2 linked regions of the Homo sapiens genome follow. The protein of the gene in region 2 binds, or shares a complex with, the protein of the main gene of each other region. Each region holds a gene or a part of one and is shown on either strand. Other genes may lie near its edges. A codon is read from its position in the direction of its gene.

Evidence for each region.
Region 1: the proteins of EIF2AK2 (region 2) and SFN are in contact, whole or in part, in a crystal structure (PDB 7OBK), measured with the Homo sapiens proteins. Residues at the interface, in NP_001129123.1 of Homo sapiens: Asn546, Glu547, Arg548, His549, Thr550, Cys551; in NP_006133.1 of Homo sapiens: Lys49 (codon at 1,625), Arg56 (codon at 1,604), Lys122 (codon at 1,406), Asp126 (codon at 1,394), Arg129 (codon at 1,385), Tyr130 (codon at 1,382), Glu133 (codon at 1,373), Gly171 (codon at 1,259), Leu174 (codon at 1,250), Asn175 (codon at 1,247), Val178 (codon at 1,238), Glu182 (codon at 1,226), Leu222 (codon at 1,106), Asp225 (codon at 1,097), Asn226 (codon at 1,094), Leu229 (codon at 1,085), Trp230 (codon at 1,082).

What each region holds. Positions count from the first base shown.
Region 1 is NC_000001.11:26,858,573-26,864,981, reverse strand, and holds SFN (14-3-3 protein sigma), read right to left. Parts: upstream 1,834-6,409; 5' UTR 1,770-1,833; coding exon 1,023-1,769; 3' UTR 526-1,022; downstream 1-525. UniProt on the Homo sapiens protein: Adapter protein implicated in the regulation of a large spectrum of both general and specialized signaling pathways. Binds to a large number of partners, usually by recognition of a phosphoserine or phosphothreonine motif.
Region 2 is NC_000002.12:37,098,677-37,105,024, forward strand, and holds the end of EIF2AK2 (interferon-induced, double-stranded RNA-activated protein kinase), read right to left. Parts: 3' UTR 534-6,348; downstream 1-533.

The sequences.
Region 1 (6,409 bases), on a different chromosome or scaffold from region 2:
TCCTTTTGTCTCCATCTCCGAACTCTGTGGGACGTGACCCTCTCCTAAGATCTAGGCTTTTTTGGCGGCGCTATACCCCTTCCTCAGATCGTACTCCCCTCCGCTGAGATCTGAGCCCTTGATGAAACTGTGACCCGCCTGCAAATCGGGTGCTCAGTGCCGCTCACTACTGCGGCGCTGTCCTTAGATCTCACGCCGGAGACTTCACTATTTCCTGCCCCGCTCCACCAGAGCTCGTCAGCCTCCCGCGCCGTGGCTCCCACTCACCTCCCCTCAGCCCGGCAGAGGAGCCACGGCGCCTCCTGTGGGTTCACCCGACCCTCCCGGTCCCGTCCAGTTTGACTGGGGCCGCCGTGATGGAGAGAGCCGGACCCCGGCCTCACCTGGACTCAAAGTCTTGCGTGCGGGCCACTGAGCCACCTAGGGAGTTCAGGGCCCTAACTCAGAGGTCCAAAGTCAGGGTCTCTAAGTCAGATTCCAGTCCCACTCCCAGCCCATCGCCAAGAACTGGAAGAGAGACAGGAGGAGTGTCACAGGGGAACTTTATTGAGAGGAAACATGGTCACACCCAGCAGACATGCTTTCCCTCAATCTCGGTCTTGCACTGGCGCGCGCGCACACACACACACACACACACACACACACACACACCCATCTCCAGCCCCTGCCACTGTCCAGTTCTCAGCCACAAGGCGGGACACTCCTCAATTCCTACGATCAGAGGCAGCAGGGGCAGGAGGGAGGCAAGAGGAGGGGAGAAGTAGCCTGGTCCTGGGGTCGGGAGGAAGCGGGTGCGGAGAGCAGGGGTGGGGGCATGACCAGTGGTTAGGTGCGCTCAACAGCTGCAAGAAGAGTGGGATCCCCAGCCCCAGGTGGCCTCAGCTCTGCCAGTCCCTCTCCACGGAGCCCTTTGGAGCAAGAACAGCGCCTAGGGGAGAAGGGTGGGGCCTCCCACCCCATACTAGTCCTCTCGGCAGGGTGGGGGACTGGAGGGGGCAGGGCGGGGCGGTGGCGGGCAACACTCAGCTCTGGGGCTCCTGGGGAGCCTCGCCCCCCTCTTCCCCGGCGTTGTCGGCCGTCCACAGTGTCAGGTTGTCTCGCAGCAGCTGCATGATGAGGGTGCTGTCTTTGTAGGAGTCCTCGCTGAGGGTGTGCAGATCAGCCATGGCCTCGTCGAAAGTGGTCTTGGCCAGAGAGATGGCCTCCTCGGGGCTGTTGGCGATCTCGTAGTGGAAGACGGAAAAGTTCAGGGCCAGGCCCAGGCGGATGGGGTTGGTGGGCGGCATCTCCTTCTTGCTGATGTCCATGGCCTCCTGGTAGGCTGACCGGGCTGAGTCAATGATGCGCTTCTTGTCGTCACCGGTGGCCACCTCGGCCAGGTAGCGGTAGTAGTCACCCTTCATCTTCAGGTAGAAGACCCGGCTCTCGGCGTCCCCGGCCTCCTTGATGAGGTGGCTGTCCAGCAGGCCCAGCACGGTGTCGCACACGCCCTGGAGCTCAGTCTCCACCTTCTCCCGGTACTCACGCACCTCGGGCCCCTTCTCCTCCGAGCCCTCCTCGTTGCTTTTCTGCTCAATACTGGACAGCACCCTCCAGGCAGCCCTCTGGCCGCCCACCACGTTCTTATAGGCTACTGAGAGCAGGTTTCGCTCTTCGCAGGAGAGCTCCTCGCCCTTCTCCACGGCGCCTTTCATGAAGGCTGCCATGTCCTCATAGCGTTCGGCCTGCTCTGCCAGCTTGGCCTTCTGGATCAGACTGGCTCTCTCCATGGCTCTGGGGACACACAGGCGGGCGGCGGGCTAACTGCTGCCTGGGACCAATGCCGGACTCTGTGTCTCTCCTGCTCTTGGCCTGCCTTTTGGCTGGGTGGCCAGGCCCAGAGAAGGGTGGGGAGGAGCAGGGGGCGGGACCAGGGCCCAAGACCTGCCTCCCTCTCCTCTCTTCCCCACACCCTTTCCGGCTCTGCAGTAAAGGTAAAAAGGCTGGGATGTGGGGGTGAATCATCAGAACAGTCAGCAGGAGAAATCTGGGCGTGGGCCCCACCTGCACTGGCACCTTTCCAGGCTCCAGGCTGCCCCCTCTTGTTCGGGGCTGGCATCACATGGCTGCCCACATCAGGAAACGGCTTCTCAAATCAGATCCACTTTCACAGTGCCCTTCCAGGGGCTAAGGACGGCTTTAGCCCCTGGCTGCTTCAGCCTCGACAGAGCCCATAAAGGTTCAGGAGGATGGGGTTCCTAATCCTGCCAGGTAACTTCCCCCCTTGGTTCAGGTGAGGATAACTCATGTTTAGGTAGGGCCATGGAGTTTCCCAAGCACTTTCATATTCACGATCGAATTTAATCCCCACCATGTCTCTGTGACACACACAGGACCATAGAGATGGGAACACTAAGTCTCAGAGAGGGGTGAGATTTGCTCAAAGTCACATAGCCACCAATTCCCTGAAACTCCTTTCTGCACCCTCTTCCTTTAGCTTTTCTCCCATTGAGGCCTCTGACCTATGAGCTCCAGACTGTGTTTGGAAGTGAGATCCAGGCTCCTTCTCAGTCTACCTGAAGATGGTTCCATCCTCCAGGCCTCATTCCCCCTCAGGGTCCCCTCTGAGCTCCCAGAATGCGCAGGTGGCAGCTTTCAGAGTGCCGCTTAATGAAGTGTTTAACAAGCAGCCTCTGAAGCTCCAGCCCAGCCTTTGTAATTAGTCACCCAGTAGGTTTGTTGGACACATTTCCCATCACTACACAATTTTCCCTTTCAAGTTGGTGGCCTGTTGCCACTTGTTTGAGGATTTACCCTCTGGCCCTCCACGCCAGGTCACCTGCCCTCTCCAAGCCACATGCCATCAGGTACCAGCGGGGCTCACAGAGGGTGGGGTCCAGCTCCCCGGCTGTCCCACTTTCCTGCCTGACTCAGACTGCTCTCTGTCTGAGGCTGGGAAGCAGTCCAGTTTGATCCCCCAGGGGGGACGCTAGCAACCTGGGGAGAGAGAGGACTGAGAAAGGGAGGTGGCAGTGACACATACCATTCTGTTTTATGGGGCAGCAATTCCAGCTACGTGATGCCTCCCCCAGCCTGTTTCTCAGAAGTTTACTTGTTCTTTCCTTTTTTTTTTTTTTAAATAGAGAGCAGATCTCACTACATTGCCCAGGCAGGTCTCAAACTCCTGGGCTCAAGCGATCCTCCTGCCTCAGCCTCCCAAAGTGCTGGGATTATGGGCATGAGCCACTGTGCCTGGCCTGTTCCTTCCTTTTGACCATTGCCCCATCTCTGACCCCTGGCAGAGTCCTCAGAGATGGAGACCTCTGTTGCCAACGTTCTTTCCCTGCTTGCCGGAGCCCTGGCCTCAAGTTTCATCAAGAGTTTCACCTAAGGGTGTTGGCATTGAGCCTATAGGGATGGATTCCTGCTTATCTGCCCCACCCATAGCCAAAGCTTAGATGGGGCTCAGAGGTAGGGCTCCCTTCACTGGGATTCTGCCGACCTAATAGTTGAGCCAGGATAATTTCACAGGCCTGTGTCTCCCCCAGCTACTCTGAGTGTCTGAACACTCATCTTCCCTCCTGGAGGGAGGCTTAGGCCAGAACTCTGGGGACCAAAGACGAGATCCTTCTCTTTGCCACAAGGAGGAGTAGGGACATGTCTGGGCTAATGCTACAGGGTTTCCAAGGAAGTAAAGGGGATTTTAAGTTTGACGTCCCAAAGATTTTGCTCAAATCAGAGAACTGACACAGAAAACAATAGGAACCACACTAAAATACCAACTTCTAGAGGGTATCTTGAGGTAGTGAGAGTGAGTGATTTTGCTTCCCTTTGATTTTCTTTCTTCTCAATTTCCTTTTTAGAGATAGGGTCTTACTCTGATGTCCAGGCTGAAGTACAGTGGTATGATCACAGCTCACTGCAGTCTCAACCTCCTTGGCCTCAGGTGATCCTCCTGCCTCAGCTTCCTAAGAATAAGGTGCTCACCACAACGCCCAGCTAATTTTTGTATTTTTTTGTAGAGACAGGGTCTCACCATGTTGCCCAGGCTGGTCTCGAACTTCTGGGTTCAAGCAATCCTCCTGCCTTGGCTTCCCAAAGTGCTGGGATTACAGGTGTGAGTCACTACACCTGGCCCTTTTGATTTTCTTATTCTCTCCAATTTATAAATAGTGAATATAGGTCGGACGCGGTGGCTCACGCCTGTCATCTCAGCACTTTGGGAGGCTGAGGTGGGTGGATCACAAGGTCAGGAGATCGAGACCATTCTGGCTAACCCAGGAAAACCCTGTCTCTACTAAAAATACAAAAAATTAGCCGGGCATGGTGGCACATGCCTGTAGTCCCAGCTACTCGGGAGGCTGAGGCAGGAGAATCGCTTGAACCCGGGAGGCGGAGCTTGCAGTGAGCCGAGATGGCGCCACTGCACTCCAGCCTGGGTGACAGAGCAAGACTCCGTCTCAAAACAAAACAACAACAAAAAAGTGAATATGTATTGTTTGTCTATGAGATACAGAATAGACTAGTATCTTTGGAATCAGACTGCCTAAATGTAATTCTTATAGCTGTTTGTGGCCTTGGCCAAGTGATTTAAGCTCTGTGAGCCTCAGTTCCTGTAACTATAAAATGGGACTTGTGAGGATTACACGAGTTAATGGAAAGCACAGTAGAATGGATGGCAACTATTATTATTATTATTTTCTTTTTTTTGAGACGGAGTTTCGCTCTTGTCACCCAGGCTGGAGTGTAGTGGCACAATCTCAGCTCACTGCAACCTCCACCTCCTGGGTTCAAGTGATTCTCCTGCCTCAGCCTCCCGAGTAGCTGGGATTACAAGGGTGCACCACCACACCCAGCTAATTTTTGTATTTTTTTTTTTTTTAAGTAGAGATGTGGTTTCACCATGTTGGCCAGGCTGGTCTCGAACAGCTGACCTCAAGTGATCCACCTGCCTCAGCCTTCCAAAGTGCTGAAATTATAGGCATAAGCCACCATGCCCGGCCAGATGACAACTATTATTATCATGTGAAAAAATCCCGTCAACTTTATTATGATCAACATATACTCACAAAGCACTAACATAGAGTTAGGTTCTGTGAAATGAGGAAGGACCCCAAGCCAGGACTTAGCCAAAGGCCAGACCTTCCCAGCTGGGTGTCTACAGGGGAGAGGAAGCAGTTTGCCCATAGCCTTCTCTCTCCAGATGGATGAATGGCCAGATGTGCTCAGCACTGCCTCCTTCCTCTCCATCTAGGACAGGCGTGTCCAATCTTTTGGCTTCCCTGGGCCACATTGGAAGAATTGTCTTGGGCCACACATAAAATATACCAACACTACCAATAACTGATGAGCTAAAAAAAAAAAAAAATTTGCAAAAAAATCTCATAATGTTTTAAGAAAGTTTACTAATTTGTGTTGGGCTGCATTCAAAGCCATTCTGGGCCACATGCAGCCTGTGGGCCGTGGGTTGGACAAGCTTGATCTAGGATATTCCTGTGACCTCAGCAGGTCCTGGAACCTCAGGGGCCTTCATTTGTACTAGTCATCCAGCCGGGGCTTCCCCAAGTCCTGGGGAAAGCTGGAGATCCCAGGACACTGGGAACCTGGAAGGCAGGCCCAGGAACTTTGGAGCCTGAGTCCAGGGAGGGACCATTTGCTTCCCGCCACTTAAGCCAGAGGACCTGGTGGTGGTTCACGCCCTCCGCATAGCCATGAGCAAGGGCAAGGAAGCCCCTTCATTCCTACTCCTCCCCTGCTGGAGCTCAGGGGTGCATCTGGGAGCCAGGCTGCCTGATACCTCCTGCCCGCTCTGGCCTGTTGATCCTGACTCAGTTCCTGTCTCAGGTACCTCCCTTTGCCTCTGGGCCTCCATTTCCCAAGTTCAGGAGCTCAGACGGGCAGGAGGCAGCAGGCCCTGGCAGGGCATGGAGCTCCACAGTCAGCTGTCTGAGTCAGCAGGACAGGAGCTGGGGTTGCAGCTCAAAGGGGCTTTCCTCATTCTGCCTGCTACCTCCCCACCCTCCTGTACAGCATCCATTCTACCAGCAGGCTCAGGGGCTCTGGCCCCATAGTCAACCAATCCTTCTTAGCTGGTAATAATAGGCTTTGAAGGGTTGTGATGAAGAAAGCAGCAACCATTTGCTCTCTACCTCCACTGAGGACAGAGGACAGGGCTCTGATAGCAGTGGGAGGGACACCAGGTAGATTCTAGAAAGAACTTCCTAAGAAATGTTTCTGTCTTGGAATGATCAAATTAAACAGGTGGCCAGAGGAAGCTCTAGCACCTTTTCCCACTGGCTAGTTGTGAACAAGAGTCCAGTTACCTAGCCAAGAGCTTACTTTACTGGTTACCTTTGGGAAGGGATATTAAATTATTTTAATTATTTTTGTGGCTCCTTGTGGAGCAGGGCGACCCCATAGGCAGTGTGCC
Region 2 (6,348 bases):
TTTACAGGCCTAGTACTAGAACTAGACCGGCTTAGAGAGTGGGAGATATCCCTCTGTTGTCCATCGAAAGATAAAAATACAGGCTTTCAGCCGGGTGCAGTGGTGCATGCCTTTGGTCCCAGCTACTCAGGGGGCTGAGATGGGGAATCCTTTGAGCCCAGAAGTTTGAAACCAGCCTGGGCAACATAGTGAGAGACCTCCATCTTAAGGGAATAAAAAAAAAATCAGACTTTCAATATGAGTAACAAGTTATTTTTAGGCCTTTTATGACTTTATAAATAGGCAATAATGAACACCAAGGGAAGCAAAACACTGAAAAGAATTTTAAAATTTGTTGTAGAACATTAATACGAAATTTGAAACTGCAAAACAATGTAAAATTTAATGTCATGTTGTCATTTACTTTTGTGTATATTGTGCCATGTTTATTTTCAAAGTCCTATCTAGAAATTCTAAAATGTCTAATTTTCTTAATTAAAAATCCAGAATTCTGTAGTTTCTGAAATTCAAAATAAATACTTTAACATACCAAATTGGTTTTTCTAATAAACATTTATTTCAAGTGTTATTTGTTAAACATTTAATTGTTGAGATTTGAAAATGAACATTATTATTTATTAGACACATTTTATAGGCTCATTCAAAATTCTTAACTTTTGAGTTCCTGCTTTCTTCACAGCAGTGCACTCACTACTTTCTGGTATACAAGAAGAACAGCTTGTCCCCACTCTTACAGTGTAATGAAATTAGCAGTATAATGAAGAAAAGTGCTGTGTAGGAATGACTGAGCTCTAAGACAAACTGGTAAGAACAATTAGGTACTAAACAATGGGAGTACTAGGGAGAAGATTCATTTTGAGTGGGAGATGTTGGAACACTTTGGAAATAACACTGAATTTGGGTTCTGAAAGATGGATATAATTTTGATATGCAAAGTTATGAGGAAAGAGTTACTGTATAATCCAGCCATTCTCCTAGGAATATACATCCAAGAGAAATGAAAACAAGTCCACATAAGATTTGTACACAAAAGTTCATAGTAGCATTATTCATGGTAGCCAAAAAGTACAAACAACCCAAATGTCCATCAGCTGATGAATGGATACATAAAATGCGACATATCCATATGATAGAATATTATTTGGCAATAAAAAGGAATGAGATGCTGATTCATGCCACAGCTGGGATGCACCTTGAAAATATACTCAGTGAAAAAGACCACATGTATGATTCCATTTATATGAAATGTCTAGCATGGGCAAATCTATAGAGATGGAGAGTAGATTAGTGGTTACCTAGAGTTGTGAGAAAACAGAGTGAATACTAACGGGCATAGGGTTTCTTTTGGGGGTGAGAAAAATGATAGTTGCACAACTCTGAATATAGTAAACACTACTGAATTGTATACTGTATAGGTGAATTGTATGGCATGTGAATTATATCTCAATAAAGCAGTTATTAAAAAAAAAATGAAGAGAATTTCAGATAGAAACCACAGGAGAGAGCCACTGAGTGCAAAAGCCTGTTGAGGTAAAACTGCAGACCTGCATGGGTGGGGCTTACTCGGGAAACACTGAATATGGGATGCATCATGGAAGCCTCCAGAGGAGCATGGCCTTGCCCAGTGAACTGCAGCCCAGTGAATCTCATTTTAGACTTCTGGCCTCCAGAACAGAAAGAGAATAAATGTGTGTTGTTTTAAACCACCAAGTTTGTGGTAATTTGTTAGTTATAGCAGCCATAAGAAATTAATACAGGTCCAAATCAAATTAACCCCATAAGAGCCACACAGATTTGAGAAGCATTTTATTTGCCTCACAGTTTTGCCTATTATACAGTTTCTAGTTATTTAGAATTTAAGCCAATAATGTCACCATATAACTATCAACTGTGATTCCCTTCATCTATGACTATTTTTAAGAAATGTAAGATTTGGATAAGTCATAATCACAGATCAGAAACTGCAGACATTGAGGCCTGGATGGCCGTTTAGAGAGAAAGAGTTAACATTTCAGTGGAGACCTTTCCTATCTTGTATTTCCTACAGTCTCCTCCTATCTTCAGTGCAGTGTTCTGGCAGCACCTCAAGCTCACTGTCACCAAATGGGATTCAACGTCTTTCCTCCCAAACATGCTCTACCTCACCATGTCGATAGATGTACAGTCGCCCCACTACTGGCTTAAATTCTAAATTACTGAAAACCATGTAACAGGTAAAAGTGTGAGACAAAGTACCCCTCAAATACATGTGGCTCTTGGGGTTCATCTGACTGAGACTTGTATTTACTTGAATGGCATCAGAATCCTGCTACTAACCTTCTAACAAACTTGGAGGTAATCTTTGATGCTTACCTTTCCTTAATCCCCACATCCAATTAGTTGCCAACTCCTCTTGGTTCTGTCCTCTTATTGTTCAGGCCCTCTTAGTCTTTCCACTTCTGACCTTTCAAATATAGTTTCCTCCTGCTCTATTCTAAACATGCTAGTTTCAAAGTATTGGTTGGGCCATACCTTGCTTTAAAGAAATACTCATTTGTCAACTGTGGAGGTTGCTAGGGCACTAACTCACTCTAAAATTTGATAAATATTTATCGCATCTTTCCCATTCAGATTTAGAGAAAGTTCCTTAAAGAAGAATCATAGATGATAAATGCAAGAGGTTTGATAGAACCAGAAAATCACTATTTTACAACCCCTGAAATGAAATAATGGATCCAGGCAACAATTATCAATAGCTGCTAAAACCATCAGGTGAAAGATTGATGAGAAACTTTGTAGTAGTTGGTACCACCAGAACTCATTGATCAATATTAAAATCACTGAAAGTGGAACAATCAGACATCATGTTCCTCCTGAAATGATGTAAGAGAAAGTGTATAGCATCACCTATGGAGTATTCTTGGGGGAAAATAAATGAACCAGGATCAAATCCAGCTTCTAGGTCTAACTGGACACTCTGGGGATACTCTCAGTCAAATCCTGAGTGGAGGAAATTCCACAGGACAAATAAAAGCCGAAAAGAACTAAAACGCAGGGGTAAATTTTACAGAGTAAAGGAGACACATCAACCAAATGCAATGTTGGATCTAGATTTCAACAACCAAGAAAACTGTATTTTTGAGATAGAAACAATACAGACTATTATATGATAATTAAGGAAATCTTGTCAATTTTTTGAGTGTGACAATGATGCTGTGGTTTTGTTAAAAAGATTTATCTGCTAGAGATACATTTTAAAGTACTTACAAGTGCAATGATGTAACACCTGAGATTTACTTTAAAATATTCCAGTAGGGCCGGATATTGTAATCCCAGCAGTTTGGAAGACCAAGGCAGGAGAATCTCTCAAGGCCAGGAGTTTGAGACCAGCCTGGGAAACACAGCAAGACCATATTTCTACAAAAAATTTAAAAATTAGTTGGGTGTGTTGGTGTATGCATGTAGTCCCAGCTATTCAAGCGGCTGAGGCAGGAGGATCACTTGAGCCTAGGAGTTCGAGGTTACAAGGAGCTGTGATCGTACCACTGTACTCTGGCCTGGGTGACAGAGTGAGATCCTGTCTCTTAAAAAAAAAATTACAATTAAATACTTCACCAAAAGAAACAAACAAAAAGTAAGGGGTTAGATGTATTAAGAACGGTAAAGTATTGATATTTGTTGCAGCTGGGTGATGGGTAGAGTTTCATTATTCTATTTTTGTGTATGTTTGAACATAAAGAAATGTATGAATAATATTGAAATTATTCAATATTCCATAATGAAAAGTTAACATGCCAAGAATCTCAAATTATGGTGAACACTCAGTGGGGACTGCATATTGTGAGTTATGTCTCTAGTTAGTTAACAGATAGTAGAGACCTGGAAAAGCTTGTATGTAGCCTTTTAAACATTTCTTCTCAGATACATACATGCATATATATGTATTATATAAAATACATATTCATACACATATGTGCACACACACAGGATGGCTTCATGGACATGCAACCTGTGCAGTTGCACAAGACTGTGCTTAGAAGCACCCCACACCTAATTTTTGAACGAGGGCCGTACAGTTTCATTTTGCCCTTAGTCCCACAAATTATGTAGCTGGCCATACACACACATGCACACATACCACATACCCACATGTATATATGCATATATTGTGTACATATGTATATACATTGAATATATTTAACATAAGTGTTAAGTATGCATGTGAATTTTATGTATGTATTTATGTTAAACATGTACGTATTTAAATAACATGTGGTTTAGTGATAAAAATTCCCTAAAAGGTATGTTTCTAGGGAGGCAATTATATTAAAATGGCTCTCAAAATTTCTGTGTGTGTGTGTGTGTGTGTGCATTTTAATTAGCAAATAAGGTCCCAGGCTCTTGCCCCTGTCCTCCTCTGAGTAAGAGGATACTTTTTACTTTAATTTTGAGGCCAAGAAAATATATACTCACAAATCAAAAGAAGTTGCTAAGAAATGCTATATTCATTTAATAAGAGTAGGAATATATATATCTTTTTTTTTCTTTTTTTTTTTTGAGACTGAGTTTTGCTCTTGTCACCCAGGCTGGAGTGCAATGGCGTGATCTCAGCTCACTGCAACCTCCACCTCCTGGGTTCAAGCGATTCTCCTGCCACGGACTCCCGAGTAGCTGGGATTACAGGCGCCTACCACCACACCCAGCTAATTTTTGTATTTTTAGTAGAGATGGGGTTTCACCATGTTGGCCAGGCTGGTCTCGAACCCCTGACCTCAGGTGATCCACCCGTCTCGGCCTCCCAGAGTGCTGGGATTATAGGCGTGAGCCACCATGCCCAGCCAGAGTAGGAATATTAAAATGAGGTCAGTAAAGATAAGGCTACATTCTCACTAACTGGCCACATCATTTAGTGTTTCTTTTGAATATAGCCTCATTAATCAAAACCAGATATTGTTTTTTTAAAAAAAGATTTCTCTCTACGCAGAACATTTCCAAATCTACAGAAAAGTTCAAAGAATAATACAACAAACACCTGTGTACTGTCATCTAGATTTACCAATTGTACAATGGCTAATATTTTGCCACATGTGTGCCCTCTTTCTCTCTCCATGTTGATTTTTGCTGAACATTGAAAGTTGCAGACATCATGACACACTTGGCCTCTAAATGTTTGTGCATGCATTGCCTAAAAAAACATTTTTGGCTGGGTGCAGTGACTCATGCCTGTAATCTCAACACTTTGGGAGGCCAAGGCAAGTGAATCACCTGAGGTCAGGAGTTCAAAACCAGCTGGGTCAACATGGTGAAATTCCGTCTCTACTAAAAATAGAAAAAATTAACCTGGAGTGGTGGCAGATACCTGTAATCCCAGCTACTCAGGAAGCAGAGGCAGGAGAATCACTTGAACCTGGGAGGCAGAGGTTGCAGTGAGCCGAGATCGTGCCACTGCACTCCAGCCTGGGCGACACAGTGAGACTCTGTCTCAAAACAAACAAACAAACAAAAACAAAATAAAACAAAACAAAAAGACATTTTCTACATATACTATTATCACACCTGAGAAAACAGTTATTTGGCATTGTTATCTAATATGCAGTCTATATTCAAATGTTCTCAATTGTCCCGAAGATATCTTTATAGCTGTTTGCTGGGTTGTTGCTTTCTTTTATTATTATTATTATTTAGATATGATCTCACTCTGTCACCCAGGCTGGAATGCAGTAACATGATCATGGCTCACTGCGGCCTTGACCTCCTAGGCTCAAGTGATCCTCCCACCTCACCCCCCCAAGTAGCTGGGACCACAGATGCACACTACCATGCCCAGCTAATTTTCTGATTTTTTGTAGAGATGAGAACTCACTGTGTTGCCCAGGCTAGTCTCAAAATCCTATGCTCAAGCCATCCTCCCCTTTTGACCTCCCAAAAATGCTGGGATAACAGGCATTAGCTACTGCGTCCAGCTTTTGTCTTTTTAAATATCCAGAATACAATAAAGATTCAAACATTGCATTTGGTCATTGTATCTTACAAGTCTCTCCCCTTTTTTTTTTTTTCATGACACTGACTTTTTGAGAAGCCCAAGTCAATCATCTTATAGAATGACTACATTCAGGATTTGTCTAATAATTTCCTCATGATTAAATTCCAGTTTAACACTTTGTGCAAGAAAACTAAATAGGTAAAATTCTTAAGTCACATCAGGAGGGGCATAATGTTAGGGTGTTCCACCTTGGGTGATGCTAAATTGAATCACTTGGTTATTGTGGTGACCATTGTAAAGGTACATTTTCCCCTGTATAATTGATACCTCTTCTGTAGGATTATATTTAAATCCTTGTAGAAGATCCTATTCCACAATAGCTTTTC